2 linked regions of the Homo sapiens genome follow. The protein of the gene in region 1 purifies or fractionates together with the protein of each later gene. This does not show direct contact. Each region holds a gene or a part of one and is shown in the gene's direction. Other genes may lie near its edges. The genes, in order: PARD3 and DCAF7.

Evidence for each region.
Region 2: the proteins of PARD3 (region 1) and DCAF7 purify together in Homo sapiens (affinity purification with mass spectrometry; 2 studies listed by BioGRID and IntAct, with this or other methods). This does not show direct contact.

What each region holds. Positions count from the first base shown.
Region 1 is NC_000010.11:34,351,819-34,367,554, reverse strand, and holds part of PARD3 (partitioning defective 3 homolog), read left to right. Parts: intron 1-7,295; coding exon 7,296-7,484; intron 7,485-8,237; coding exon 8,238-8,408; intron 8,409-15,736. UniProt on the Homo sapiens protein: Adapter protein involved in asymmetrical cell division and cell polarization processes. Seems to play a central role in the formation of epithelial tight junctions. Targets the phosphatase PTEN to cell junctions.
Region 2 is NC_000017.11:63,582,983-63,598,008, forward strand, and holds the end of DCAF7 (DDB1- and CUL4-associated factor 7), read left to right. Parts: intron 1-519; coding exon 520-729; intron 730-2,228; coding exon 2,229-2,346; intron 2,347-6,017; coding exon 6,018-6,190; 3' UTR 6,191-11,284; downstream 11,285-15,026. UniProt on the Homo sapiens protein: Involved in craniofacial development. Acts upstream of the EDN1 pathway and is required for formation of the upper jaw equivalent, the palatoquadrate. The activity required for EDN1 pathway function differs between the first and second arches.

The sequences.
Region 1 (15,736 bases):
TTTTTGTATTTTTAGTAGAGACGGGGTTTCACCATGTTGGCCAGGATGGTCTTGATCTCTTGACCTCGTGATCTGCCCGCCTCTGCCTCCCAAAGTGCCGGGATTACAGGCGTGAGCCACTGCGCCTGGCCAGAAGGAGGACATTTTCTTATATAACTGTGTTATAGTTACGAAAATGATTAAATCGATTGTATTATCAGTTGTCCCAATTAATGTTCTTTATATCATAAATGAATGAGAGAATGAATGAAATACAAGTATGAATAGAATTTGGTCCTGTTTCCAATTCAGGATCATGTATGGCAGTAAGTTCTCATGGCTCTTTAATCTCCTTTAACCTATTACGTTTGTTAATATTTTCTCAAGAACAAATTACTCCAGGCAAATTTTTAATTTTTGAAGGGGCAGATTACTTTGAGAATGTCCCTCAATTTGAGTTTGTCTGATGTTTCTTTGATTGGGTGAGTATTTTGGGAGTTAACATTAGAGATTAATAATTGTGCAAAACATTTTTTCCTCAGCATTATTTTACCAAGCAAAAAATTTAAAAGTCTTTCAAAATGTATTTGGCATCTACCATTCGAATTAGAAAAGGCATTATAAAGCCAGATATGACATTTGAACTTTACTGATAAGAATAATGAACTTTATAATATCAACACAAATAACATACAGAAATGTTCATCTCACATACGGGATAAATTAAAATGGGGAACTTAAGGAAATTTTGGAGTCTCTTTGGAGGGTTATTCTTTTATTAAGAGGTTTATCATGGTTCTTAAATTTAAGAAAAATTTAAGAAAAATTTTAAAACCATGATAATTTCTCCATTTAAAAAATCTTTCTCTTAGTTAAAAATATAAATGGTTGTTCATATTGTCTCAGATACCTACCTGCATATTATTTAATCTCTGTTTGTTGAATAAGTATATTCTCTCTTTAATGTCTATGAAAATTTCTATTCTGCGTGACGCTATGATGGTCTGCTGTCATGGCATGGTTTTTTTTAGAGCTGTCCTAAGGTGCTCATTCATAGCCCATCTTTGTCCCAAGCAACAGCCCCTGCCCATCATATCCAGGTGCCCCTCAATTTATGATGGGGTTACTTCCCCATAAATTTGTCAGTAAACCCACTCTATGTTGAAAATATTGTTATGATGAAAATGCATTTATACACCTAACCTACAACGCTGTAACCCAGCCTACCCTACCTCATGTGCTCAGAAGGTTTACCTTAGCCTTCAGTTGGGCAAAATAATTAACACAAAGTTATTTTACAATAAAGTGTTGAATATCTTATCTAATTTATGGGATACCGTACTGAAAGTGAACAACAGAATGGTTTCATGGGCACCATCAAAAGTGGAAAAATCATTAAGTCGAAACATTGTAAGTTGTGGACCATCTGTATAACCCTCTATCAATTTCTCCTCCCCCATGCAGTGTTTTTTTGAGGAAGCAGAATTAAAGAAGTGGTATACAATGGATTTTTTGTATTGTAAAAATAATGCATATCAACTGTAGAAAATTCAGTCATGTGTAGAAGAAAATTAAAATCACTTGTAATTCTGTGACTTCAGTATCATCATTTTAATGTATTTTTTCATATATATATTTGTGTCTGTGAGCCTAGCCAAAGATAATGTATTTTTTTAAATGATTTTCTTGTTCTGGCTTGGTGGCTCATGCCTGTCATCCCAGCACTTTGGGAGGCCAAGGTGGGCGGGTCACCTGAGGTCAGGAGTTTCAGACCAGCCTGACCAACATGGCGAAACCCTGTCTCTACTAAAAACATAAAAATTAGCCAGGTGTAGTGGCTCACGCCTTTAGTCCCAACTGCTTGGGAGGCTGAGGCAGGACAATTGCTTGAACCCAGGAAGCGAGATTGCAGTGAGTTGAGATCATACCACTGCACTTCAGCCTGGGCAACAGAGCGAGACTCCATCTCAGAAAAAATAAATAAGTAAAAAGATGTTCTTGTCTACCTATTTAACTAATATGTATCATGTCCCAGCCACATATCCTATTATTGTTAATAAATGTCATGCCCCAGGCACGAGTGAAGACTGACATAAATTCCTACCTTGTGAAGCTTCTAGTGATCTTTGAAGGCAGACATTAATTCATAAAAATATGTTATGGAGGTTTTTGATGGGTGTACTGGAAGTTATGGAAGTCCAAAGGGTAAAACTCAATTTCTTAGTCACAAATACTTTCTTGTCTTACATATTATTTTGCTAAGACACTTTATTAGCTGAATGGCATTCCATTGTGTAGATAGATCTTAATTTTCCTGACTTTCATACATGTCAATTTTTAGCTATTGTAATTAAAACAATATCCTCACAGTTAAAACTTGGTACATGATCACAACTATTTTTGTAGGCCATATCACTAAAAGTAATATTTCTAGCTTAAGAAAATGGCAAACTGTAGAAGGTTTAGGTAAGCATTGTCAAATTGGTTTCCATAAATATTGTACCATTTTTTTACATTCACCAGCAGTGCAAGAACATGCGCATTTCACCACACCAGTATTAAATATCATTATTTTTATTTATTTTTTAGTGTTCTATGGCAAAGCAGTATTTGTTGGATATCATTAATTTGAAGAAAATATATGGAGCAATTTGATAACCTTTGATTGATTTGCGAGTAAGATTGAACCTTGTACTTGGAGGTTGATTTATTGGTTTGCTCATCTTTCTTTAGTGAATGGCTTGTTTACATCCTTTTCCTGTTTGATGCAGACTGCTTATCTTTTTGTTATTAATTTACTAGGGATTTTTGCATTAATTTACTAGCTATTTGCTAATAACTCAGCTGGGCATGGTGGCTCTTGCCTATAATCCCAGCATATTGGGAGGCCAAGGTGGGAGGATTGCTTGAGCCCAGGAGTTTGAGACCAGCATGGGCAACATATCAAGACCCTGTCTCTACAAAAAAGAGAAAAAGTTAGTCAGGCTTGGTGGTGTGCCTGGGGTCCCAGCTAGCTACTTGGGAGGCTGAGGGCGGGATAATCACTTGAGTCCAGGAGTTCAAGGTTATGGAGAGCTATGATCATGCCACTGCACTCCAGCCTGGATGACAGAGCAAGACCCTGTCTTTAAAAAAAAAAAAGATAATTCTGTAGATAAGGGCAGATCTTGAGAGAGAGAAATTAATGATTTATAGTGGAGTGATGAAACTTTTGCTGAGTCACGTATTTTGTTACAAAGCCAAAAATCGGCTATTGAGCTCACTCCTATAATTTTATGGTCTTCTATCATTTGTGCACATTCCATGTTTCTTTTGCCTCTCTTCACAATATTTTGTACATTCTCATCCAAATTTTCGTTTGTTGCGGCTCAGAGATTACCCTTCCCATGATTGTTTTTCTGCTGCTTGACACAATCAACTCTTATTTCCTTTTTTATAGATAACACCTTTGCTGCAGATTAACTGTGGATTTGGGCCTATAGGCCAGCTCTATTCTCAGTTTTTTGGACTGTGATTTCGGGAAGAAGGAAAAGGGGGCCATGATGGTGCCCACTTGTGACTCTTTGTCTCACTGCAGATAGAAATGTACATCTTTTCTGCTGTTCTCTGGAGGGTGGGATAGTAAGTAGCTTTCACAATACCCATTCAGCAGGTTCCTTAGCAAAGGTGCCCTTTTATTCTGGGCATTTAAAGACAACAAATGGTAATGGAGAAATGGGCAAAGGAAGAACTGACAGGCTTTGTTGCTGAAAACAATCACTTGAGGTATACACACATGTATGTGCGTGAGGCAGGTGTGCTTGAGTGACATGACTGTGCCCAGATGACATGAGGAGTGAGTTAAAGAAAAGACATTTTTTGCGTTTCTGTAGAAAGATCTTAATTCGAGAAACAGTTGATAAGGTGCAGAATTTGGATGGAATAGCAAGGTGATAGAAAGTTAGTTTCTATTTTACATCAGAATATGGAGATTCCTATACTATCTGACTTTATGAACATTCTCAGTAATATAGCATTTCAAATGATTTTTGAAGAGCACAATTTTTAAAAAACATTTTTCTGCCAGAGAACTAAGTTCTAAAAGCTGGCATTAATTTCTGTCTATGTCAAAAGCCAAATGGATTAATAGTGGAATATCACATGAAACATACAATGTTTCACATCAGTGTTCTTAATGATAATAATGACTTAAGACTTGGTAAGAAAGCTGAAAAAGATTATTCCCATTCTGCAGTTGTTATAATAAATAAACTATCCCCTGGAGAATATGCTCTTCTTTAAAACAGGTTCAGAGTTCAGCAATCAGAAAATATTGCAACTTGATTAAAATTTTTCTTCATATATGCAGCCAGCTCCTTATCCTGATCTTTCAAGTAGGAAAAATATGAGAATTGTAAGCCTTGGTAAAATGTTATGGAAATGTAAAACTCAGTAAACACTGAAAAGGCAACTGAAGATTCAAATCAGAAAGTAACAATTAAGAACCTTCCAGAGTTGAAGCAAGTAAGCATAGTGAGTGATGAGACTTAGGTGTGTCCATAGAAAGAATATTCTTGTTTTCCATTTTTTCAAATGTAGCTTTTCCATGCTTATAAGTACTGATTGACAGAATAATTTTTTATTTCAGCAACCTCCAAATTTAAAGTCAAGGGGAACTATGATGTGTATTGATGTTGTTTTGTATTTTAAACATCAAAATTTACCGTACTTTATATTCTTGTAACAGATTTTATATTGAGGTAGTGCAGTTCATTCACACATAGTCATTATTTCGTACTCTGTAAATGTTTCAAGGGGCTGGGCACGTAAGCCCAATACTTTGGGAAGCCAAAGTGCGTGGATTGCTTGAGCCCAGGAGTCTGAAACCAGCCTGGCCAACATGGTGAAACCCCATCTCTAAAGAAATACAAAAATTTGCCCGGTTTGTTGACATGTTCCTGTAGTCCCAGCTACTCTGGAGGCTGCAGTGGGAGGATCACCTGAGCCTGGGGAGGTCAAAGGTGTAGTGAGTAGTGATTGTACCACCGCATTCCACCTTGGGTGACAGAGTGAGACTGTCTCAAAAAAACAAACAACAAAAACACTTGTTTTGAGCTACATGGACCAAAATAAAAAGTATATTGAATATTCATGTTTATAGAGCAAAGCATGTATATAAAGATACTTTTGTATCAAAGTATTTGATATATTTGATCTTTTTTTGCCCACAATACATTGGTTTTATTTGAGCTAAAATTGTTCTCTGGGAATATTTTATTTTATTTTATTTTTTGTTATGGGACAGAGTCTTGCTCTGTCGCCCAGGCTGGAGTGCAGTGGCATGGTCTCCACTCACTGCAAGGTCCACCTCCTAGGTTCACGCCATTCTCCTGCCTCAGCCTCCCAAGTAGCTGGGACTACAGGTGCCCGCCACCACGCCTGGCTAATTTTTTGTATTTTTAGTAGAGATGGGGTTTCACCATGTTAGCTAGGATGGTCTCGATCTCCTGACCTCGTGATCCACCTGCTTCGACCTCGTGATCCACCTGCGTCGGCCTCCCAAAGTGCTGGGATTATGGGCGTGAGCCACCACGCCCAGCCTGGGAATATTTTAAATCTAGTTTTTATGATGAGCAGGCTTAAGGCTTTATTTGGACTTTGATCATAAATGTATTTACTTTGCATAGTTAACATGACTATTACTCTGTATTTTTTCAGATTCTTATTTTGAGTTCTTCATTATATAAGTTTTAATTTTTTTTTTAACCCATTAGCAAGTTTATTGTAATTGAAGTGTTACTTGTCTTTAAAAACTATCAGGCCATCCTTTGAGATAGCACAAAGATGTCCTACCATAAAATGTTAACTTTACATATTTGTAAATTAGAAACATCACATTACTATGGGTCTAAAGATTTATAAATAGCATATTGCTTATTTTATGATGATCTAAAAAATTCACTTACAGATAGTGTACTCTCAAAATGTATTTTATCTAATTGAGACATCTGAGATTGCATGTTTATGCCCCAAATTCCTTGCATTCCAAATTTCCTTGAATTCCAAATTCCTTGGGTTGATTTTTATTCTTATTAGGACATTTTAAAAATTTGGTAGGATGCAGTCACCTACTTTTTTTGTGTTATTGAACATTCTGTAAAAGCACAATCTGTTTAAAGTATATATTCCTACATATCTGTGTACCACTGTATTTCTTATTCTTCAATTATAATTTGATAAGTCAAGCTTGAATGACTAAACAGATGCTGGAGAAATATTTCAAACGTGGGAAAAGAGGAGGAGAAATAGGTTGTAGGACTAGATGTGCCATTCAGTTTTTACTTGAAGAGCCTGTGCCACGTGTCTGTTATGTGGTTGGAGCAAGAGTTTGTGCTTGAACAAGCATCCTAGCCTTACTGATTTGGACATGACCAGTATAGAGATGGTGGAAATCTTGGTCATGGGCGGGATTGCTGAGGAGGAGGAGCTCAGAAGGCTGAGTGCTTCCTCTTCTGGAGTGTAGGCTTTCTTAATGATAGGCTGTCATCTTAATGCATTTTATTCAGTTCTACATTAAGCTTTCATTTCTTCCTCTGTTTTAAGGGAGGTGAACAATAATTTGTATATCCTAAATGTTTTTTATTTTAAAAAGTCTTCCTTCTATGCTTGGTGACTATGAAGTTAAATCTTAACTAATTAAACAAGATTACCTGAATAATATTTACCAGCTATATTATGTATGCTACAATATTGTGGAAAAGTTTTCTGTGATGTTGTATATCTCTACTTTGTCTCACAGATGTTGATGTTAGAATTCTTTAGAGGCTCTCTGAACCCATATACCTTTTTCTGCTGATTTTGTATGATCAGGATTTGTTATTTTTTGTGAATAAACACCATTAGTGAACATTAAATATATTGATAACTTCAGAATTTCCTCATAAAAAGGGAGATAAATGAATTATATTTATTTATTTTTACTCCCATTGTTACTGTTTTTCTTGTCGTTTAGAATATATGATTACACCAAAAAAATCCCGAACTCTAGAAATCTACTAGTCTTTAGTCCTTCCACTACATTTTCCCTCTATCTTTCTCAAATCTGATTTAAGTTTGGTTCAATATTGAATAATTGCTACATAAAAATATTAACAGCTGGTTCCAAGAATCTTCTGGAGTGGGTGCAGATGTAGTGTTTTCATGGATCTTGCTGTGGAACCTTCATGGAAATATTTTGCCTCTTATGATTAAGGAACTGCTCATTAGCAGTCTTTAAAAATAACTTTGAGAAAGAAACATTGGACTATAATGTGCTGTGCAATTTTGTTCCCTATTAGAAAGCAGAAGATGAGGATATTGTTCTTACACCTGATGGCACCAGGGAATTTCTGACATTTGAAGTCCCACTTAATGATTCAGGATCTGCAGGCCTTGGTGTCAGTGTCAAAGGTAACCGGTCAAAAGAGAACCACGCAGATTTGGGAATCTTTGTCAAGTCCATTATTAATGGAGGAGCAGCATCTAAAGTGAGTGTCAACTTTATCATGCGTATGCCTATTAACAAAAATTTTAATTTCAACCCTGTTCCTATTTTGGAAACATATACAGTTAACAGAAGTTTTCTCATTTCTTTATGGTACCCACATTCACATTTAAACAACTAGGTGTATCAGTGATGTGTCACGTGGGGATGGAGTCCATAACTTCAACCTTTCATTTTTTCTCTCACAGAACATACAACCCATTGACATGCTAGTTAAATGAAGTTAATCAATGCAAAGACTTGGCATAGGTCCTGTCACAGAATGGGCGTATAGTAGACGTTAATCTTTCCCCTCCCCTCCCCTGTTTGTGGGTCACTTACTCTATTTCTCAGCCTAGAGAAAATTTCCTGGCCATTTGTTAAGGGGACAGTTCTCTGCAACTGTCTAATAGCCTTGAGCTTTTACATGTCTTGGTTTCTAAATAACCTCTATGGGTGTTTCTGGAAGCAAGAAAGTAATCACTTTGTGTCCTTTGAATTAGTATGCTATTTTGGTAAACAGATTATGATAATGACTTGATTTACAAATGTATAAATGATTGAAATAGACACAGGCTACAATAGCTGCTTAGACGTTATTATGCCAGCGTTCAATTGGGCATAATCCATTAGGATTAAAGCTCCCCACTTTTTTTTTTTTTGCTTTGTTTTTATTTTATTTATTAACTAAAGGAAAAGCTACTTCTTTTATAGCAGTCTGTTTAATAGCACTTATTTTTACCTGTTTTCTTCCCAGGATGGAAGGCTTCGGGTGAATGATCAACTGATAGCAGTAAATGGAGAATCCCTGTTGGGCAAGACAAACCAAGATGCCATGGAAACCCTAAGAAGGTCTATGTCTACTGAAGGCAATAAACGAGGAATGATCCAGCTTATTGTTGCAAGGAGAATAAGCAAGTGCAATGAGGTAAGAAATGCAAAAAAGTGCTAGTATCTAAAATTGTAAATAAACTACATTTCTGTCCTAATTTTGGGCAAAGGGTATTAGGTTCCAGGACCTTACATCAAAAGACCATAAATTATCTTTGCTTATTGTAGTTTTATTATTTTGTAGGTGGATTGTGGTTTGTGTTCTTAATTCTTGTGATCAACATATTCCTAAGTGGACATTAATACTCCTATTGCCAACTCAGCAGGAAACACTGGGATCTCAAAAGCCCCTTTAGCTGAATTTTTTCTTGAAATCAGGGTCACATCTTCCTTCTCAGAGCCAACAGTTTCTCTTCTAGTTGGCAGAGTTATACCTGGGAGGTGAATCATGCAGAGAAACAGTTGCTTATTCATTTATTTAAAATGGGATGCCTCTTACAAAGCCCCTAGTAGGGAACAGTCTTTCCTTCCCTGTCCTTTCTTTTTTATTTGAGACAGGATCTCACTGTGTTGACCATGCTGGAGTTCAGTGTTGTGGTCACAGCTCGCTGCAGCCTCCATCTTCTGGGCTCAAGGGATTCTCCTGCCTCAGTCTGCCAAAGTCCTGGGATTACAGGCACGCGCCATAGCACCTGGCCCACAGTCTGGCTTTCTTAGATGATGGTGTTCTCTTGTGAGATTATCAATAGCATATACCTCCCTCTCTTTCCTCAGTCCCCATTTTCTCTTTCTCTATGGGATTGAGTCTGTTCTCTTAGAATGCCTCCTTTTTCAGTGATCTGTATTGTATTATACTCTGCTTGTTCTAAATGTATGTTGCAGTTTGGAATTAGGGGTGAGGAGGACACAGGGCATCCTCTCTTGAAAGGTAGGATCATCTATTTTCCCAAATATGGAAAAACATACTTTGTTGTATAATAGGACATTTGAAAGTTAAAAATAAATTATATGTTGCCTTGATAATATTGGAGCTTGAAAAAAGCTAAATTTCATGGATCCATTATAAATTATGTGCCAACTGTAGAAAATAGGTCAGACTTGCCCATGTGCAAAATGAGCTGTTGAAAATGTGAAGTTTTTCTTAAATCAATGTTCAGATTCCCACATTTTAAGATCAAATCAACTAAGATAAAATGATTAGCAAATAATACAAACTGAAAATTATACCTAAGTTGTTTAAGAGTTTTTCTTAATTTTTAAACTTCTGTTTAATAAACACATAAAGCACCGTTTTCAGGTTGCAGTGACCACTCATCTGAACCTATGATACAAGCATATTTTACAGAGAAAATATACTCTCGAGCTCAGTTGGTAGTCAATATAGAGGTGACGTATTCTGAAAGATCACTGACCACTGAATTATTTTGTTGTTTTTATTTGCCAAATGTAGAATGAGTTAACAGTAATCAACAAATTAATTGCGATATCAAGAGAACAACATAACCTTAACTAAAAAATCTCAGAGTGGAGAAGAGTGGGACATACAAACATTCATTTATGTAAGATAAATATAAAAGCTAATCCCTCACAGTAGGATGCTGGACTGATATTTTTTTCTCTTTTCCGTCCCTCCTGGACTGATTGAATAGTAGTTTTTACTCATTGCAAAATCATTAGCTGATCTTTTAACTTAAGTCCCACAAAGCACTATATGAAAACATCTCAACTGTAAGTTTACAAAACATATCATTCTCTTTTAGGCCTTTTTATTTTGGCCACCTGAATACTTTCCCATTACACAGGACAGTTTTCATTCCACAGATATTTATTGAGCATCTTATGTGTATCAGAAAATGTGTTAGATCCTGAGGACATAGCAGTGAATAAGACAGATGGCATGCATTCTACTGGACAACGTATCACCTTAGTCTTTTAGAGACCAATTAAAATTTTTAACACCTTCTCAATGTTTTCCTTCACAGAAAACATTGAATGCTACAGGAGGACTTAAAATGCAGAAATGAACTGAAGATCAGTGTTCTGCTTTTATCTGATTCAGATTATTCCCTATTGTTCCCCCCAAATAGTGACAAAGTAAACCTGTACCTGCCTGAAAATGTTTTGATAAAAGCACTGATTTTATTCCCTGTAAGAGATGTGAAATTGGAATCCCCCTGAAATATCTCTGTGTTTTATTCACTTCTCCATATGAATTTTTGTGAATGAATATGATTTAAGTAAGGAAACAGCTGCAGTAGACAGTAATAGACTTTAATATTCAATATTCCTTATGGTATCATTTTCATACATTGCTGGTTATTACTATTTCTTAGGACAGCATAAGCTTATAAAGCAATTATATCAAAAAATCTTATGAGTGCTGTGCTATCTTTGTAATACTAGCAAGAACCCTTTTGTACTGATAGGGTTTAACTAAAGAATTACATGAAGACAGAAGATCTCAATTCAGCTTCCAGTAAGGTATAAGACATGATTTTTCAGCTGTTGTACTTATGCATTACCTTAGGAAAACCTTCTCCTTTGCACACTGGGAGGGTATGTGTAAATTATGTTATAGTAAATATTGATATAAGCACAGGGCATCCTGCTGTCCTGAACAAATCTCAAGCCAAAATAATGTGCTGAGTTTTCTTTCTAGGTCTTTTAATCAGCTGTATAGTCCAGTCTTTGCCAATCAGAAAACTGTATTTTGCTATCTCATCTTTAAATCCAAGGTTTGCATATTTAATTTCTAGTTAGGGAAGGTAAGAATGTGTAAAAGAAAATCTTTTGTTCTTTGTCACATTTTTCTTTCTCTTATACATGGAAGTGCTGTGTATTATCTTAATATGTCTTCTTTATTTTTCATTTTTGTAGAGACACGGTCTTGCTATGTTGTCCAGGCTGTTCTCCAACTCCTGGCCTCAGCTTGCCAAAGTGCTGAGATTTCAGGCATGAGCCACCTCACCTGGTCCAATGTGTTTTCTTTAAATTTATTTGTCAGCTCCCTTCACTAGGTATTATGTTAAAGCCCTGTATTTCCCTAACATTAGTCGCGACAGGGCACATTGGAGACATTCTCTGGGAGCTATTTCTTAGCCTATTTTGCTTAGCCTTCCAGGAATCTGCAGGCACTATGTCATTCTCAAAGTGTCTCCTATGTACTCTCTCTAGTTTTCTGCTACCCTACTCCGGGTCTTCTCTAAGGGTTCCTCTTTTCTGCCTGTTCTTTCATTATTCCTGTCTCTCAAAGTTCCTCTGGGTCTGTTGTCTGTTTTTTTGTTTGGTTTTGTTTTGTTTTTTTTTTTTTTTTTTTTTTGAGACGGAGTGTCACTCTGTTGCCTAGGCTGGAGTGCAGTGGCGTGATCTTGGCTCACTGCAACCTCCGCCTCCCGGGTTCAAGTGATTCTCCAGCCTCAGCCTCGTGAGTAGCTGAGATTACAGGTGTGCGCCATGCCCAGCTAATTTTTTGTATTTTTGGTAGAGATGGGGTTTCACCATGTTGGTCAGGCTGGTCTCAAACTCCTGACCTTGTGATCTGCCCACATTGGCCTCCCAAAGTGCTGGAATTACAGGCGTGAGCCACTGCGCCCCACCAGGTCTGTTTGTTTTTACTCTGCTCTTGCTCCCTAGCTGATCTCCACTCCCTTGCTGCCTGAAACCACTTGTTAGGATGAATACTATCATCCTCTTTCCAGCTCACAGGTCCACTCTGGCACCAGATCCCTCTGTCCACCTGCCTAGGGAAATATTTCCTGGTATGTCTTATGGGCACCTAATTCACAAGGCACCACATTCTTTCTGTTGTAGAAGGCAGAGATCTGGGGTCACCCTTGACCTCTCAAATGCTGTCCCTATCCCTGTTGCCTGTTGCTTCTACCTCTAGAATTTCCCTCTTTTCTTTTTTGGAGACAGCGTCTTGCTCTCTCGCTCTGTTGCCTAGGCTAGAGTGCAGTGGTATAGTCCCCGGCTCACTGTAGCCTCGACTTCCCATGCTCAAGCAATCCTGCCACCTGTCTCCCTAGTAGCTGGGACCACAGGCATGCACCACCACACCCAACTAATTTTTCTTTAAAGATGGGATCTCACTATGTTGCCCAGGTTGGTTTTAAACTCCTGGGCTCAAGTAATCCTTTGGCCTCAGCTTCCTAAAGTGCTGGAATTACGCCTGTGAGCCACTGCGCCTGGCCTAGAATCTCTCTTCCTTTAGCCGCTCCCCTCTTTCCCCTCTCCCACTGCCTGAGTTCAGACCTCATCCTCTCACCAGGCGCACTGCTGCAGCTCCCTGAGGGTTTTCTCTGCAATCAGGCTTTCTCCCTCAATCCATTCTCTGCACTGCAGTCAGGCAAATTTTTCTACAGAACACATTAATCACGTCAGTCCCTGCTGAAATCCCTTCAGAGGCTTTCCATGTCTCCAGGATCAACCAGTCTCCATCATGGGGACCACTGGGACATGCCTGATTGTCATCGGTGCCCTACAGCCCCTGCAGCACCTCTGCTCTAGCCACTCAGTGTTTCTGGTAATTTCTCAGACATGGGATGCTCTTTTACACCTCTAGGTCTTCCACTTGAGTCTATCTGCCCCTCATCCTAGCAAAGACTTAACGCAGTCTTTCATTTTCCATTTTCTCTTCCAAAGGATTTTCATAGCCCCGTGTACTCCCCTTCACCCAGCAGCTGTCACACTATCATGGTTTCCTCTTTGATTTTCTTTTGCTGGAATGTGGATTCTGAGACTGCCAGGGCTTGGTCCATCTACCACTTTCCTGTGTATCCTTTGCTGGTATCCAACCCAGGCCTGACACATCAGCACAGGCTGAATGACGAAGAGCAACCCTGGAGAGTCTGGCTTTTTTTTTTTTTTGAGACAGAGTCTCGCTGTGTTGCTCAGGCTGGAGTGCAGTGGCGTGATCTCAGCTCACTGCAAGCTCCGCCTCCCGGGTTCACGCCATTCTCCTGCCTCAGCCTCCCAAGTAGCTGGGACTACAGGTGCCCACCACCACGCCCAGCTAATTTTTTGTATTTTTTAGTAGAGATGGAGTTTCACCGTGTTAGCCAGGGACTGCAAGTGCCTGCTACCATCTGGCGTTTTTTTTTTGTTTTTTTTTTTTGAAGAAAGACAGGTCTTGTTAGTATTAGAAACTGAAATTCCAGAGTCACCCTCAGACAAGGCAAACAAAGTGATTTTGAGGGCAGTAATTTTTATTTCCTTTGCTTTCCTTCTTTTCTTAGATCTAATGGTTTTATCTAACTACACTTAAAAACATTGTATAAACCATCATTGTTTGTTTTCTTTTTTCTTTCTTCAAAGAAAAAGAGATGGCTTCCCATTGTTTAAAGCCCTTAAAGGATGATTTCACTTTTTTAGAGAAAAACTGAGTCCCTGCATTCTTTTCCATCGTTTCAGTTTTGGAATACACAAAGTAAGAAGAGAAAAATTGTTTTCACTTACCTCAAAGGACACATTTGTTGAAGACTTTTATTTTTTATTTTATTTATTTATTTATTTATTTTTTTATTTATTTATTTATTGATCATTCTTGGGTGTTTCTCGGAGAGGGGGATTTGGCAGGGTCATAGGACAATAGTGGATGGAAGGTCAGCAGATAAACATGTGAACAAGGGTCTCTGGTTTTCCTAGGCAGAGGACCCTGCGGCCTTCCGCAGTGTTTGTGTCCCTGGGTACTTGAGATTAGGGAGTGGTGATGACTTTTAAAGAGCTTGCTGCCTTCAAGCCTCTGTTTAACAAAGCACATCTTGCACCGCCCTTAATCCATTTAACCCTGAGTGGACACAGCACATGTTTCAGAGAGCACGGGGTTGGGGGTAAGGTTATAGATTAACAGCATCCCAAGGCAGAAGAATTTTTCTTGGTACAGAACAAAATGGAGTCTCCTATGTCTACTTCTTTCTACACAGACACAGTAAAAATCTGATCTCTCTTTCTTTTCCCCACATTTCCCCCTTTTCTACTCGACAAAACTGCTATCGTCATCATGGCCCGTTCTCAATGAGCTGTTGGGTCCACCTCCCGGACGGGGTGGCGCCCAGGCAGACGCGCCCCCCACCTCCCTCCCGGACGGGGCGGCTGGCCGGGCGGGGGCTGCCCCCCACTTCCCAGACGGGGCGGCTGCTGGGCGGAGGGGCTCCTCACTTCCCAGACAGGGCAGCTGCGGGGCGGAGGGGCTCCTCACTTCTCAGACGGGGCGGCCGGGCAGAGACGCTCCTCACCTCCCAGACGGGGTGGCGGTCCGGCAGAGACACTCCTCACATCCCAGATGGGGCGGCGGGGCAGAGGCGCTCCCCACATCTCAGACGATGGGCGGCCGGGCAGAGACGCTCCTCACTTCCTAGATGGGATGGCGGCTGGGAAGAGGCGCTCCTCACTTCCCAGACTGGGCAGCCGGGCAGAGGGGCTCGTCACATCCCAGACGATGGGCGACCAGGCAGAGAGGCTCCTCACTTCCCAGATGGGGTCGCGGCCGGGCAGAGGCTGCAATCTCGGCACTTTGGGAGGCCAAGGCAGGCGGCTGCGAGGTGGAGATTGTAGCGAGCTGAGATCACGCCACTGCACTCCAGCCTGGGCAAGATTGAGCACTGAGTGAGCGAGACTCCGTCTGCAATCCCGGCACCTCGGGAGGCCCAGGTGGGCAGATCACTCGCGGTCAGGAGCTGGAGACCAGCCCCGCCAACATGGCGAAACCCTGTCTCCACCAAAAAATACAAAAACCAGTCAGGCGTGGCGGCGCGTGCCTGCAATCCCAGGCACTCTGCAGGCTGAGGCAGGAGAATCAGGCAGGGAGGTTGCAGTGAGCCGAGATGGCAGCAGTACAGTCCAGCCTCGGCTCGGCATCAGAGGGAGACCATGGAAAGTGGAGGGAGAGGGGAGAGGGGAGAGGGGAGCAAAAAAGAGTAACTTTACAGTGGAGAAAGCTGTTGACACTCTGTTGAAGATTTTTAAACGAGACTGGAGTGGAATGGAAGTAAATGCCAGGCATCATTCCTTGAGTGTTGAAAATAGCCTCTATATGAGAATTATGCTGAGTTTTAAATATTTTAAAGACATTAATATTTGTAGAAATTACTGTAATTTAACATAGCTTCCAGGCATTTTATTATATCCATGTTAGAAGTGATTTTATGTAAAGCTTTTTCTTAGTGCCAGTAGAGAATATCGCCAGGTGAGCTTTCTGTCTTAGACCTCATATTGGGGGATTTAGTCATCAAGGACTTCTTTAAAATGAATTTTTTCTCTAGGCTTAACCCTCTTAGAATGAGAAAGGTATATTAGAATAGGAAAGGGGCCTAAGGTATCATTTATGAATCTCTTCATTTTCTGTATTAAGAAATAAATGCAAAGAGGTCAAATGATTTGCTTTAATGGCTGCAAGGCCAACATAGGTGGCAAAGTAATTTAGAAGCA
Region 2 (15,026 bases), on another chromosome or scaffold:
CCGTGACTCAAAATTTCTGTTACCTCTTTCTTGCAAATGAGTCTCAGGTCCAGGTTTCACAGAATCAGCTTGGCTGCTATTAAGTGGCCACAGGAGGGCTGCTTTCACCTCTGTGATTGATGATCTAGGCCTTAATGAGCTCGTAGACCTGCCTCTGATTGTGCACAAGGCCCAGGAAATAAGTGTCTCATTCTTGTTGTGTGGCAGAAGACAGCCACTGTTCTGTTGGTCAGCAGGGCATGTGCCTTTGTTTTATCACGGGTTGGAGGAAGAAGACTTGGAAAGCAGGAATGTGGGAAGAAGCCAGCCAATTTCTATAGCAGAATGATCTTCCATCTTTGGGAAGCCACTGATATTAGAGCTCTCGGGTTTCAGTACTCACAGACACTGTTTGGGCTTCATTTATCTGCTTTTGTGTCATGAGCGAGGTTTAGATGAACTGGACGTGGCAGATTTCCCTCCTATAGGAAGAAGAGGTAATGGATCTGAATCTGACTGGAGCTTCTTGTTCACCAACAGGTCTATGATATTGCATTTAGCCGGGCCGGGGGTGGCAGGGACATGTTTGCCTCTGTGGGTGCTGATGGCTCGGTGCGGATGTTTGACCTCCGCCATCTAGAACACAGCACCATCATTTACGAAGACCCACAGCATCACCCACTGCTTCGCCTCTGCTGGAACAAGCAGGACCCTAACTACCTGGCCACCATGGCCATGGATGGAATGGAGGTGAGCACTCCTCTCAGGCTACCATGGGCCCTGCCTAACTCCAGCACTGCTTAGTATATCTAGAAGGCTGGTTCTCAACTGGAGCAGTTTGGCTCCCGGAGTATCTTTGGGAATGTCTGGAGGCATTTTTGATTGTCACAGCTCTAGAGACGCAGTTGGTACTATGGCATCTAGGGGGTAGAGACCAGGGAGGCTGCTAAATATCCTACAGTGCCCAGGACAGTCCCCCAGCAAAGTATATCCTACCTAAAATGACAGCAGTCCCGGGACTGAGAAAGCCTAATCTGGAATAAGAATTACTTGTTAAGAACTTTTAATTTTTGAAGAGTTGGAGTTAGAGCCAGGAAAAGCAATATCTAAAGAGTAAACCAAATCGTATGTGCCTATGGTGCTGAGTGAAAAAGCAGATTTTCCCTTCTGTAGTCTGGACAGATTCATCTAGCTTTAGCAAACAGATGTAGAAATGGCAGCCCTCTGGCCGGGCGCTCTGGGTCACGCCTGTAATCCCAACACTTTGGGAGGCTGAGGCAGGTGGATCACGAGGTCAAGAGATGGAGACCATCCTGGCCAACATGGCGAAACCTCGTCTCTACTAAAAATACAAAAATTAGCTGGGTGTGGTGGCATACGCCTGTAGTTCCAGCTATTCGGGAGGCTGAGGCAAGAGAATTGTTTGAACCTGGTAGGCAGAGGTTGCAGTGAGCCAAGATCGTGCCATTGCACTCAAGCCTGGGAGATAGAGCAAGACTCCATCTGAAAAAAAAAAAAGGCCAGGCACGGTGGCTCACACCTGTAATCCCAGCACTTTGGGAGGCCAAGGTGGGCGGATCACAGGTCAGGAGATCAAGACCATCCTAGCTAACACGGTGAAACCCCGTCTCTGCTAAAAAAATACAAAAAATTAGCCGGGCGTGGTGTCAGGCACCTGTAGTCCCAGCTACTCGGGAGGCTGAGGCAGGAGAATAGCTTGAACCTGGGAAGCGGAGCTTGCAGTGAGCGGAGATCATGCCACTGCACTCCAGCCTGGTGACAGGGCATGCTCTGTCTCAAAAAAAAAGAAAAACAAATGGCAGCTCTCTCTAGTCTGTTACTTGATTAAAGAGGTGAATTGTGGGTGGGGAGAATGCATTGGTTGTCCTTGGTTTGGTGGCGCTAGCACCTCAGATTCTGCTTTGGCTGGGCTCTCATTCCATTCATCTGAGATGCATAGAATTCTTACCACATGCACCTGCTGGGACCCAGGATTACCCAGACTCCTGTTGTCTGTTTCTGCATCTCCCCTATCAGTCTAAAGGCCCAGTGTTGCTCAAGATAGAGACTATCAACTACCCGTGTCCTTTGTCTTCTTTTCCCTCAATCCTATGGAAATCCTGTCTCTAGTTCTTTAAATCCACAAATGAAAAATTATGCCTAAAAAGATTTTTGCATGTGGATAGTATTTTTTGTTTTTTTCTATGAAACTCTGATGATCCCAGGCCTTTTACTTGTTATTTCCGCAGGTGGTGATTCTAGATGTCCGGGTTCCCTGCACACCTGTCGCCAGGTTAAACAACCATCGAGCATGTGTCAATGGCATTGCTTGGGCCCCACATTCATCCTGCCACATCTGCACTGCAGGTAATCATGGTGGGGAGAAAGAAATCTGGGAAGGATGGAGGAAATCTGTTCTCTTGGCTCCTTAGAATTGTAGTTGTTACTGTTTTCTAAGCACAGTCTTGAGAGATTTATACAAAATGACTAGTTGGAGCCTCTCCACACTTGTGAAATTCAATCAGTACAAATTTTTAGACGATCTTGTACCCTCATGGACATCAGAACATCTTCCATATATGATTTACATCATGTGTCAGTTATAGGGCTGTGCCTTGTACTGTGCCCCTGAAATCTGGATGGCACAGAGGACTCAATTCCAGGAATATGGGGAAAGGGAGGCATCCCTCATGGATATAACAGAATCTTTGGGACTGTGAAGATCAACATCTCCATGGGACCTTTCAGGTTTCACTATAACAAACCCACAGTGTGCTCTGGATGCATCGGAGGGCCCCACAGAACTTTGCCTGGTTGTGGTTTGTGACTTGTGGTTTTCATTTCACTGTTTCCCAGACCAAAGCTAGCACCCCTTACGGGCTGGGTGCAGTGGTTCACGCCTGTAATCCCAGCACTTTGGGAGGCTGAGGCGGGTGGATCACCTGAGGTCAGGAGTTCGTGACCAGCCTGACAAACATGGTGAAACCCTGTCTCTACTAAAAATACAAAAAAAATTAGCCAGGCATGGTGGCACGCACCTGTAGTCCAAGCTACTTAGGAGGCTGAGGCAGGAGAAGCACTTCAACCCAGGAGGTGGAGGTTGCATTGACCAGAGATTATGCCACTGCCCTCCAGCCAGGGCAACAGAGCAAGACTCTGTCTCCAAAAAAAAAAAAAAAAAAAAAAAAGTACCCCTTAAAAATATGTTGGGCCAGGCACAGTGTTTCAGGCCTGTAATTGCAGCACTTTGGGAGGCTAAAGTGGGAGGATTGCTTGAGGCCAAGAGTTCAAGACCAGCCTGGGCAGTATAGTGAGACCTCATCTCTACAGAAAGTTAAAAAAAGACTATCTGGGTGTGGTGGTGAATTCCTGTAGTCCCAGCTACTTAGAGGCTGAGGTGAGAGGATCCCTTGAGCCCAGGAGTTTGAGGTTACAGTGAGCTGTGATTGTGCCACTGTACTCCAGCCTGGGCAACCAAGCAAGACCCTGCCTCTAAAATAAATTTTAAAAAAAGAAAAGAAAGGCTGGGTGCAGTGGCTCACATCTGTAATACCAGCACTTTGGGAGGCCGAGGCAGGTGGATCACGAGGTCAGGAGATCAAGACCATCCTGGCCAACATGGTGAAACCCTGTCTCTACTAAATACAAAAATTAGCTGGGCGTGGTGGCACATGCCTGTAGTCCCAGCTACTCGGGAGGCTGAGGCAGGAGAATCGCTTGAACCTGGGAGGTGGAGGTTGCAGTGAGCTGAGATCGTGCCACTACCCTCCAGCCTGGTGACAGAGTGAGACCCCGTCTCAAAAAAAAAAAAAGAAAAATATGCTGGTTGTCAATGCACTTTTATTGTAGAAATAATGCCAATCTGTTATTTAAATTGAAAACAGTACAGAAGCATATTTAAGAGCAAGGCGAAAGTCATCTTTTCTCCTTCCTATATCATTTCTGCCTCCATCCCCCTCTGCATAGATGACCTCTATCAACAGGTAATGTGTCTCCTTCCAGACCCTTTTGGTATACTTTCAGGGATGTACATCTATGCCCCCAAATACAACTATATACTTCTTCCTTTTGCACTGATAGGATTCTGTCCTAGTCCTGTGATGTTTTGCTCCTTAACTTTTTTAGTGTGTTTTTTTTCTTCTCCTCACTAATCAGGAGCCTTATAATGGACAAGGTTTGTTATGGAGCCCAAGAAGCAATGTACTCTGGTGTTTTTCTGCCATTTGAGCATTATTTGGAAGGCATGAAGCTTTTCCTGATTTTGGCCCTCTGCTCATGCCTGTATGTCTCCTTGAAGAGCAGCTGGGGGCCTGCTGCTGCCTTCTGTACCTCAGATTGTGGTCTGTCTTCTTCATTATTGCCCTCTTTTTTTTTTTTTCCCAGGGGTGTGGATAGGGAGGGATAGAAGAAGCAGAAAAGAAAGGTGTCATCCATTATTCATGGAAAGCAGGACTGGCCCCGTAGAAGCCCCATTTTCTGCTCCTGGCTGCTGCCTTTGTCTGGCTCGCTGTTGTTTTGTGTGTTGCACCTGCCTTGAGCCCCTTCAACCGAAGGAGCTGTTGCTCAAGTGTGCTCGGTTGAGCATTGAGGAAAAGGGCCTTAGTGCTCTAGAGGTGCAATTCCCTGACCTCTTGGCATTGATTGTCCCTGGGAGAGGGATCTTGCACCTGGCCCAGACTATGCGGCCTTGGCAGGAGACTAGTATTGCCCACAATTAGTCTATTAGGGTTTAGTTTATTCAGATTTTCTTTGTATCTGAGACCAGCTTTCATCAGAATGCATGGCAGAGTCAGGGTACACTGCAGCTCTGAAGGCCATTGCCTTATTTTTTTCTTTTTTAAAAATTAACTTACTATTTTGATTATAAAAGTAATATAGGCCAGGTGCGGTGGTTCATGCCTGTAATCCCAGCATTTTGGGAGGCCGAGGCAGGAGAATCGCTTGAACCTGGGAGGCTTTGGTTGCAGTGAGCCGAGATTGCACCATTGCACTCAAGCCTGGGCAACAGAATGAGACTCCATTTAAAAAAAAAAAAAAAAAAAAGTAATATGAGCACATTACGAATCACTTAGGAACTAGAGAAAAGTAAACATAAATCCTAACCTTGCCATCTTAGTATTGCCATCATTCTCATTTTAATATATTTCCTTCTACTTATTTTTCATGTGCTTTTATATATTTAAAGTGATTACCATCTTTCTGGTGTTTCCCATAGCTATTTTCTTGGATTTTTTTTTTTTTTTTGAGATGAAGTCTCACTCTGTCACCCATGCTGGAGTGCGGTGGTATGATCTCGGCTCACTGCAACCTCTGCCTCCCGAGTTAAAGCGATTCTCCTGCCTCAGCCACCGAAGTAGCTGGGATTACAGGTGTGTGCCACCACACCTGGCTAATTTGTATTTTTTTTTTTTTTTTAGTAGAGATGGGGTTTCACCATGTTGTCCAGGCTGGTCTTGAACTCCTGACCTCAGGTGATCCGCCTGCCTCAGCCTTCCAAAGTGTTGGGATTACAGGTGTGAGCCACCATGCCTGGCCAGGAAAGAATTTTTTAACAGCACATATCAGCACTACTTTATCAGTCTTCTATATAACACCTCACTGAAGCATAAATGTCCATCAAACAGGGAAGAAACGCTCTCATTATATTGAATGATCAGAGAATGATCTTTGTAACCACTCAAGTATTTTAAGTGGCTGCAAATGACATGTTTGGTATCCCCTTGTCCACTCCTGATACCTGACCCAGATGAGAAGGACTCATTAGTGCAGTGGATAGAGCCTGGGGACATCTGGGAGATGGAGTCAGGGCCTAGATTTGAGTTCTGGCTCTGCCACTCACTTGGCTGAATAGCTGTGTGATTTGGAACAAGTGCCTTAACATTTCTGAATCTCGATTTCCTCATCGATAAAATGGGGGCTTAAAATAGAACCGCCATCACGGGGGTGCTTTGTAAACTGTGACTTGCTCCTGAAATGCAGGGATCATCATCCGCATTGCCTCACTTGTGACCTTGCTTGCTGGCTTTCTTTGTCCCTAGCGGATGACCACCAGGCTCTCATCTGGGACATCCAGCAAATGCCCCGAGCCATTGAGGACCCTATCCTGGCCTACACAGCTGAAGGAGAGATCAACAATGTGCAGTGGGCATCAACTCAGCCCGACTGGATCGCCATCTGCTACAACAACTGCCTGGAGATACTCAGAGTGTAGTGTTGGTGGCGCTGTGCCCACGAGGCAGGGGCTTTTGTATTTCCTGCCTCTGCCCCACCCCCAAAGTAAGAAGAAACATGTTTCCAGTGGCCAGTATGTCTTTCATTGCTTTGCACCCACTGTTACCAGAAGCTGCTCTAGGAGTTCCTGGCCAGTCACCCCATCGCCCTCTGTGGCAGACTCAGTGCTGTGTGGCGCCTCCTCAGCCCAGGGCTGAGTTTTAAGATTTTCTCTCCTTTCCTCTTCTCCTTTGGTTCCTCAATTAAAAAATGTGTGTATATTTGTTTGTCAGGCGTTGTGTTGAGGAGCAGTTCACGCACTGGCTGTGTCTATTCCTCTGCCCAGGTGTCTCTGTTTGCTGCCCAAGGCAGCAGTTCATGTCTCGTCCATGTCCATGTTCGTGTTAGCACTTACGTGGGAACAAATACCAATTTGTCTTTTCTCCTAGTATCAGTGTGTTTAACAAATTTTAACTTTGTATATTTGTTATCTATCAGGCTAATTTTTTTATGAAAAGAATTTTACTCTCCTGCTTCATTTCTTTGTCTTATAGTCCTCCCTCTTTGCACCTTCTTCTCTTCCCTCAGTGCCTGGAGCTGGTACTGGGCCCCTGGCCCCATGAGCAGTTTGCCTTCTTGAGTCACTGCCTGTGTAGTACATACCTGACCGGGAGTCCAAACCACCTTGGTGCTCTGAAGTCCACTGACTCATCACACCTTTCTTAGCCTGGCTCCTCTCAAGGGCATTCTGGGCTTGTAAACAGACATAGGAAGCCTCTGTTTACCCTGAAGCACCACTGTCCAGCCCATTGGTTCCCACTGGCAGCATGGTAGAGCTGAGAGAAACAGGCTCTCAGGGTACCTGACTTGAGGGGAATCGTTTCATGAAGCTGAACTTCAAGCATATTTCCAGTACATTCTTTCAGAGTCTGTTTTTCCATCCAAATATAAGCCCCAGGCCATTCCACTTAGTGTCTTTTCAATGATAGGCAAGAATGATATCTGAGTTGAACTTCGGTGCTTCTGTTGTTTGAGTTTACTGTGCCTGGTGGTATATTGGGCATTCTTTGGATTGAGTGTTCTGAGGTGAGAGAGTCTTCCCGAGGCATCCTGTCTGTGCTTCCAACCCTGAACAAGACCTTACATGAGAGATGGACTGATGGACTGCGGCAATCCTGGGCTGTCAAGTGGATAGATAGTTAAAAAGCATTATACTGTGGGTAATGAAAAGGGAGGAAAAAAAAAGAAGGAAAAGGAATTATAGACCCCCAGGGTCAGCCAGTTAAGAGCTCTACCCACACCTGTCAACCCCTCTCTCCCCCAGTTTAGGTTCTGAGCAGTATTGGACTTGTAGCCTGCAGTTGTCTTTTGACTTGCAGGCCGCAGGTGTCTTTCTGTTATGTGAATGAGTTCCATGGAGGGGCATATGTGTGATTCCACCGTTAGATGAGCCCTTGGGGCAGGCAGTTTGGGATGTGCTCTTGGGGGAAAGTTGGCTGTTTCCTTGCGCTCTGCTCCTACCCGAAGGTTTTTAAGTCCCTCTGAATTGCTCATCTGAGATTAGTAGAGTAGCAGGCCTGAAGGATGATGGTTTTGTCCTCTTTGGTTCTCACCTGCTTGAGAAGTAAAACAGTAACTTTGTTCTTCTGGGCCCTTAAGCTTTTTTGGTTAAGTCTTCCTTTTCAGAAGTAGATGTCATTATATGCCAAAAGTCTAGCTCTTTGCTTTACCATACAGGGACCTGTCCCAAAGAAAAAGGCTCTTTTTTTAGCCAGCATATTTCCCCTTCTACCCTTTTACTTTGTTGTTCTGATTTTAGGACTCTGGCTGGCCATGTGCTTGTGGTTGCCTCTCCTGCATTTGCCACTGGATTTGCACTGCATCGTTTGGAGATACAAAGCGAGCAGTTCTTGGTCAGAACCCTCCTCTGCTTTTCATTGTGTTTGATAATGGTTACTGGGTCCTTCTCTCAAGGGTAGCAAGGCCAAGCTGATGGCTGCTTGTTTAGGAGGCCATCAGTTCCTTCCTGTGGAGAAGGGTCTGAAATGGAAGTCAGTGGTAGAAGGGGCTGGTCTGCTGGGCAGGGCTTACATCCACTGAGTTCTAAGATTCCTTTCCTGATCTGCACCTACGCCTGGTCTGTATGGTGGAATTTGTCAGCTGGAACTCAGAAACAACAACTTGAAAAAAAAATAATAATTAGAACATATTTGCATAAGATAGCTATTTACTCTGGAAACCAACAACTTTTGAGATTTCCCTTGCCCTGTGGACGCCCAGCTCCTGTCATCCTTCCTTAGGTCCTGCAGTACAGTCTTCCCCTGAATGCCACCGGGGACCCAGGGGGACTCCACCCCCCTAAGCAAGCACACACATACTCACAGTTGATGAGTTGCTGGTCTTTGAGTCCCAGCTCTCTTACCCTCCCTTTACTCCACCAGCCCGACGACCCATGACTGAGGAGGGGATTTCTACAGTCTCAGGATTTAGAAAGTCTGTAAGCCATCCATGCTCCAGAAAGCACCGATCTGTTGTAGTTGCAAAAACAACTCTGTAATTTGTTGAGGTTCTCAAACTGACAGCCAGCGAGACTGGGTGGGAGGCCCTGGATCTGTTCTCCCTGACTGCGGGAGGAGCAGCCACTAGGACTTTAGCAGGAAGCCCACATGGAGGCTCCGCCAGGCTGTGGCCCAGCTGGTGATGGCCCTTTTGCTCCTGGCAGCCTGAGGCACAGCTGCCTGTATTGTCCTCATCTGTTCTGACTGAAGGATGGAGGTGCTGAATAAATTAGGCCTCAGGCCTCTACCACCAGAGAGCTGGAGAATGGGTCCACGTCATTCAAGGACCTGAATTTTTTATGCTCAGGAGCATTGGAATCCTCTTCTTCCAGGGAGGAATTAGCCTGCAAGGTTAGGACTTGAAGAGGGAAGGTATTTAATAACTGGGCGAGGATGGGTGTGGTGGCTCACACCTGTAATCCCAGCATTTTGGGAGGCTGAGGTGGCCAGATCCCAAGGTCAGAAGATCGAGACCATCCTGGCTAACATGGTGAAACCCCATCTCTACTAAAAATACAAAAAAAAATTAGCCGGGGGTGGTGGCGGGTACCTGTAGTCCTAGCTACTTGGGAGGCTGAGGCAGGAGAATGGCGTGAACCTGGGAGGTGGAGCTTGCAGTGAGCCAAGATCGTGCCACTGCACTCCAGCCTGGGCGACAGAGCAAGACTCCGTCTCAAAAAATAAAAAAAAAAAAAAAATAGGTGAAAATTCCTTATAAATCCAGGATTGGCTCTGAGAGAACTGGCTAAGATTCAGGAAGAAACAAAAAATTCAGAATCCTACAAGGTTTTGATGACAATTAGGGCCAAAATTTTAGGAGGAGATGTAGGATGCAGGAGAAAATTAAAGTGTTTTCTTTATATCAGAGGAGGAAATAGTAGAGGTCAGTGAAGGTCTGGGGTAGGGAAACATTCAGACTGTCCATTGCATGGCTGTGGAGTGAGACTGCCCTTAGCCTGGGTCAGCCTTCCTGGGCCATAAATTGGGCATCCGTGATGCTAGGTAACTGTGGGAACAAAATGACAGCTTAGAGCAGCCATGGGTGATGTTTGGTGGTAAAAAACCTACAGGCGTTTGGGGTCCCATGATTGTTCCAGACCATGACTCTTCCTGGTTGTGGGTTTGTTACAGAGCAGGAGAAGCAGAGGTTATGACAGTTATGCAGACTTTCCCCCTCCTTTTTCTCTTTTCTCTTCCCCTTGCTTTTCCACTGTTTCTTCCTGCTGCCACCTGGGCCTTGAATTCCTGGGCTGTGAAGACATGTAGCAGCTGCAGGGTTTACCACACGTGGGAGGGCAGCCCAGTACTGTCCCTCTGCCTTCCCCACTTTGAGAATATGGCAGCCCCTTTCATTCCTGGCTTGGGGTAGGGGAGACCATTGAAGTAGAAGCCTCAAAGCAGACTTTTCCCTTTACTGTGTGTACTCCAGGACGAAGAAGGAAGATCATGCTTGATACTTAGATTGGTTTTCCCAGGGAAGAGGGCGGAGCAGAGCAAAGTCACTGTGAACCCTGGGCCAGGCCCTGGCTGGGCCAGCTCCTGAGAGCGTCTCGTGTTGCAGACCCTTGCCCACTTCACCCACCTGCACCTTCTCCCCCTCTCACAGTGTCACTGCTGCTAATGGTCAAAGTCAAATGTGTGGCCACATGGGATGGGCCAGGTCCTCTCAGGCTACTTTCTGGATGTCATTTTTAAAATATGGAAACATGCAGGTGCCTTCCCAAAGAGGCTTGGACTGGTATATCCAACGAGAAACAAATAAGCTAAAGAAAGTTTAAACTCAAGAAGAAAGATGTTGACAGTCTATGTAACAGCTGGAAAGTTTATAGGCACCCACCTTTGGGACAACCCAGTGATTATGAACATGTGATATCTACTATTTAAAAGAAATGTTCTCACCTTGGGTTGATTGTGGTATACCATGTGTTATGAAAATTGTTGAGCTGAAGCTTTGAATCGATTTAGTTGAGTCTGACTCACTTGCTTTGGTTCCTGTGTATTTTACTACCCCTCTTGTCAGTGACCTTCCTTCCCCACCCCACCCAGAGTGAATTTGTAGCATGATTGTATAAACCTCTATGTAGAAAATGGAGATTTCTTGCTCTGAAATGTTAAGCTCTAACTGATCCATTTCTGTGTCCTTTAGCCTAGTATGTCTGAACTTCCATTCTTGTTATATATTTAAACTTTCCCTCTATATTATAGGTTTTGTGGCATCCACGGTCAGGTGTAGAGGAAGCTGCCCCTTGCAGAACTGTACTGTAATATTTTTCTTTTATAAATATTTTCACAGGACTGATTGTACACAGGGCTTGTAATAAAATTTTAACACTGTGCTGTGAAACAACTATGGGGAATCTCCATTGAAGGCTACTTCATGGGCACCTGAAAGTGGAGTGTTATAGCTATGACTTTCTATTTCTTGTTTCCTAAGTAAATTAAACCTAATTTTCACCCTTTCATTCTGTTTCAGCCTCCTGTATAAGAAGTACCGTATTTTCTGCCCATCATACTTTGTAATAAAACTTGAACATGTATAGATTGACTGAATTTCTTTTTGTGACGAATTCAGTTCTTCCCATTTTGTCACTTTGGTCATGTTCCATAGACAGTGGCAGTGCCCCAGCCCGAGCCGGGCAGTCTACTCATCACCTTTTATATCCTATTTAGTCATTCACTTGTTAATTCAGTGGAGCACCTCCTCTATGCCAGGGGACATGGCCCTCAAGTTGGTTGCAGTCTACCAGAGGAGACATCTACATAAATACTTGTGGCCGGGCACAGTGGTCTGTGATCCCAGCTGAGGCATGGGGGTGGCTGAGGTGGGAGGATCACTTGAGGCCAGGAGTTCAAGACCAGCCTTGGCAACATAGCAAGACCCTGTCTCAATCAATCAGTCATTTTTATTAAAAAAAAAAAAAATTTCTTTTAGCCAGACTAAGATCTAAGACAAATCTTTTTTTTTGCATTTCTTTTTTCTTTTTTTGAGACGGGGTCTCGCTCTGTCACCCAGGCTGGAGTGCAATGGCGCGATCTCGGCTCACTGCAACCTCCACCTCCCGGTTCAAGCTATTCTCCTGCCTCAGCCTCCTGAGTAGCTGAGATTACAGGCATGTGCCACAACACCCGACTGATTTTTGTATTGTTAGTAAAGACGGGGTTTCACCGTGTTGGTCAGGTTGGTCTCGAACTCCTGACCTTGTGATACGCCTGCCTCAGCTTCCCAAAGTGTTGGGATTACAGGTGTGAGCCACCGCACCTGGCATTTATTTTATTTTAATAGTTTTGGGGGAACAAGTGGTTTTTGGTTATGTGGATAATAAGTTTTTTTAATGATGATTTCTGAGATTTTGGTGCACCCATCACCGGAGCAGTGTACACTGTACCCAATTGGTAGTCTTTTATCCCTACCCCCTCCCACCCAAATTTTTAAAAGACAAAAAACAAAAAAACCAAATAACTTGCATTGTTGTGCGATAATGGATGTGTTTAGGCATCACCCCTCAGGAGGAGGTGATCACCTCTGCCTGTGTGGGAGCCACATGGGGTCAGCGAAAACTACTTAAGATGGATGCCTAAGCTGGGTTTTGAAGGCTGAGTAGGAGTTATCTGGAAATAGGGAATGTCCTTTAAGGCAGAGAGAACACCCATGTGCAAATCTATGGAGGCAAGAAAGTATGGTCATATTTAGAGAATTGCAGGTTGAGGTGGGGTGAATAGTGGGAAATGTAGCTAGAGATGTATACAGGAGCCAGGGCAGGGAAAGTCTCCCGCTTTGCAGAAATTTTAGACATTACACTTCTGTATGATCCTGGAAAACATACACAGAGAGGAGTCATCAGAATTGCATTTTAGAAGGATAGGCAATGAAAAAGTGCCTCTTCCTTCTTATAGGGTGAGAGAAAAACCCTGAACTAAGGCGGCGGCGGCAGCAGCAGCCACGGCAAGGATGGAGAGGACAGGGCACAAGTAAAGAGGGATGCAGTCATCAGCATTTAGTAATTTATTGATTGTGAAGGAGGACAGAGAAATAACTCCCAGATCTTTTGGATTTGGACAGGTTCTGATGGCTGACTAGGAATGTCCAAGTCCCTGCTAATTTCCCAAACCTATGCCCCACACGGTAGGGTGGGGGAGTTCCTATCCCACTGCTCTTCAAATGCTGTGTGTCCTGGATGAAATACTACCCCCATTTATTTATATTTTTATTCTTCATGTTGGGCCACTGTGAAGGAAGAGAAGAAAGGCAAACTGATTGGTTCCGTGAACCTGTATTCGGTAAGTACCTGCCATTGTGTCAGCTGATATGGAGCCGGTGGCAGTGGATCTGTGAAGGGAAGTATGTGCTCTTGAGAATTTAATTTTTTTTTTTTTTCAGACAGAATTTCGCTCTTGTTGCCCAGGCTGGAGTGCAATGGCGCGATCTCGGCTCATCGCAACCTCCGTCTCCCGGGTTCAAGCGATTCTCTTGTCTCAGCCTCCTGAGTAGCTGGGACTACAGGCATGTGCCACCACGCCTGGCTAATTTTATATTTTTAGTAGAGATGGGGTTTCATCATGTTGGTCAGGCTGGTCTCAAACTCCCGACCTCAGATGATCCACCCACCTCGGCCTCCCAAAGTGCTGGGATTACAGGCGTGAGCCACCGTGCCTGGCAGAGAATTTAAGTTTTATGAGTACCTGCTGGTCCTTTGGAACTGTGCTGCTATATGGTCTGACAATGTATATTTTGTGAGAAACACATGAGTCCTGCTCTCTGGTTTTTAAGGAGAAAACAGAGAGTAATACTATTTATAGGCTAGCCTATGCTGCGGCAACAAACCCCCAAATCTCAGAAACTGAGCACTACAAAAGCTTATTTTTTGCTTACACAAAGTCCTCTGGGCCGGGTGCAGTGGCTCAACTCTCTAATCCCAGCACTTTGGAAGGCTGAGGGGGGAGGGAGGGGCAGATAGCTTGAGGTCAGGAGTTCGAGACCAGCCTGGCCAACATGGTGAAACCCTATCTCTACTAAAAATACAAAAATTAGCTAGGCATGGTGGCACACGCCTGTTGTCCCAGCTACTTGGGAAGCTGAGGCAGGAGAATAGCTTGAACCCGGGAGGTGGAGGTTGCAGTGAGCCAAGATCGCACCACTGCACTTCAGCCTGGGCAACAGAGCAAGACTCCATCTCAAAAAATAAAAATAAACGTGTGACCTCCAGGTTGCTTATGGGGGGTGGGAGGGAGTACATTTTTCAGGATGGGCCGGGAAGTGGCTTACTCACTTTTGCTCCTATCTGCCAACTGCAAGGAAGGTCAAGTCAAGAAATGTAGTCTTCCTGTGTACCCTGGAAAAGGAAGTGAAGTAGTGAATAATTATGTCTCAGCCATACTAGCAAATCGGCTAAGTATCTGGACTAATAACTAATGTAATCTCATTCATTGAGAGCTGTTAGTACTGGACAACACATGGTCAAACCTAATGGAATGATATTTGTAGCCAGTCTTTAGCTTCCAAGGCTCATTGTTACTTAAGTGATTTCAGTGAGCCTGACAGCCAGGCGTCTAGAGATGGTTCAGTCAACTATGAATTTATCTTGAAAGGTGGCTATTAACTCAGACTGAGAGTTAAAATCTGCCCTGCCATTCATCACAGATGCACAGACAGATAAAACCAGCTGCACAGTTAACAGGATATAGTACCTCTATCAAGAACACACTGCAATTTTTTTTTCTTTTTTTGGCAACATAAAGTGTCAAAACTCCCTGAGTGACTACTGTTTTAAAAAAATTCACTGAGAAATTTCGTTCTCCAAAATCATAGGCTGACAAAGTTTGCTGTTTGCAATTGTATTTGTGAGAATTAAGGCTTATAGTCAGTCTTGCTTGGAGGAGCTGAGTCACTCTGACAGAGAAGCAGCCTTGATTTCCAGGCCAGGTATTGTGCTTCAGAGCAGGGGCTTCTGAACACAACAGTCCACATTTACCTTGACTTTGTACTTTCCAGGGAAACTGATCCCCTGGGTCCACTTGGTAGTCCAGCTGATCTTAATCCGCCTTTCACACAGGTCTGTGTTTCTTTGAGCCTAACTCTAATTTTTCACCTAACTTCCACCCTTCCCCATAATTCTATGACCAGTTTTTTCTTCGGTAAGACACTTCACCATTCCTCTGGTGTGCAGTCTCCCTTGTTGCAGTGAGTTGATAAGCCTAACTCTGTGAGACTATAGGTTTCCCTTGCTGGTCTCAGGCTGACTGGACTAGGGCAGTCTCAAACCTTGTTTTAGCCTCTACACT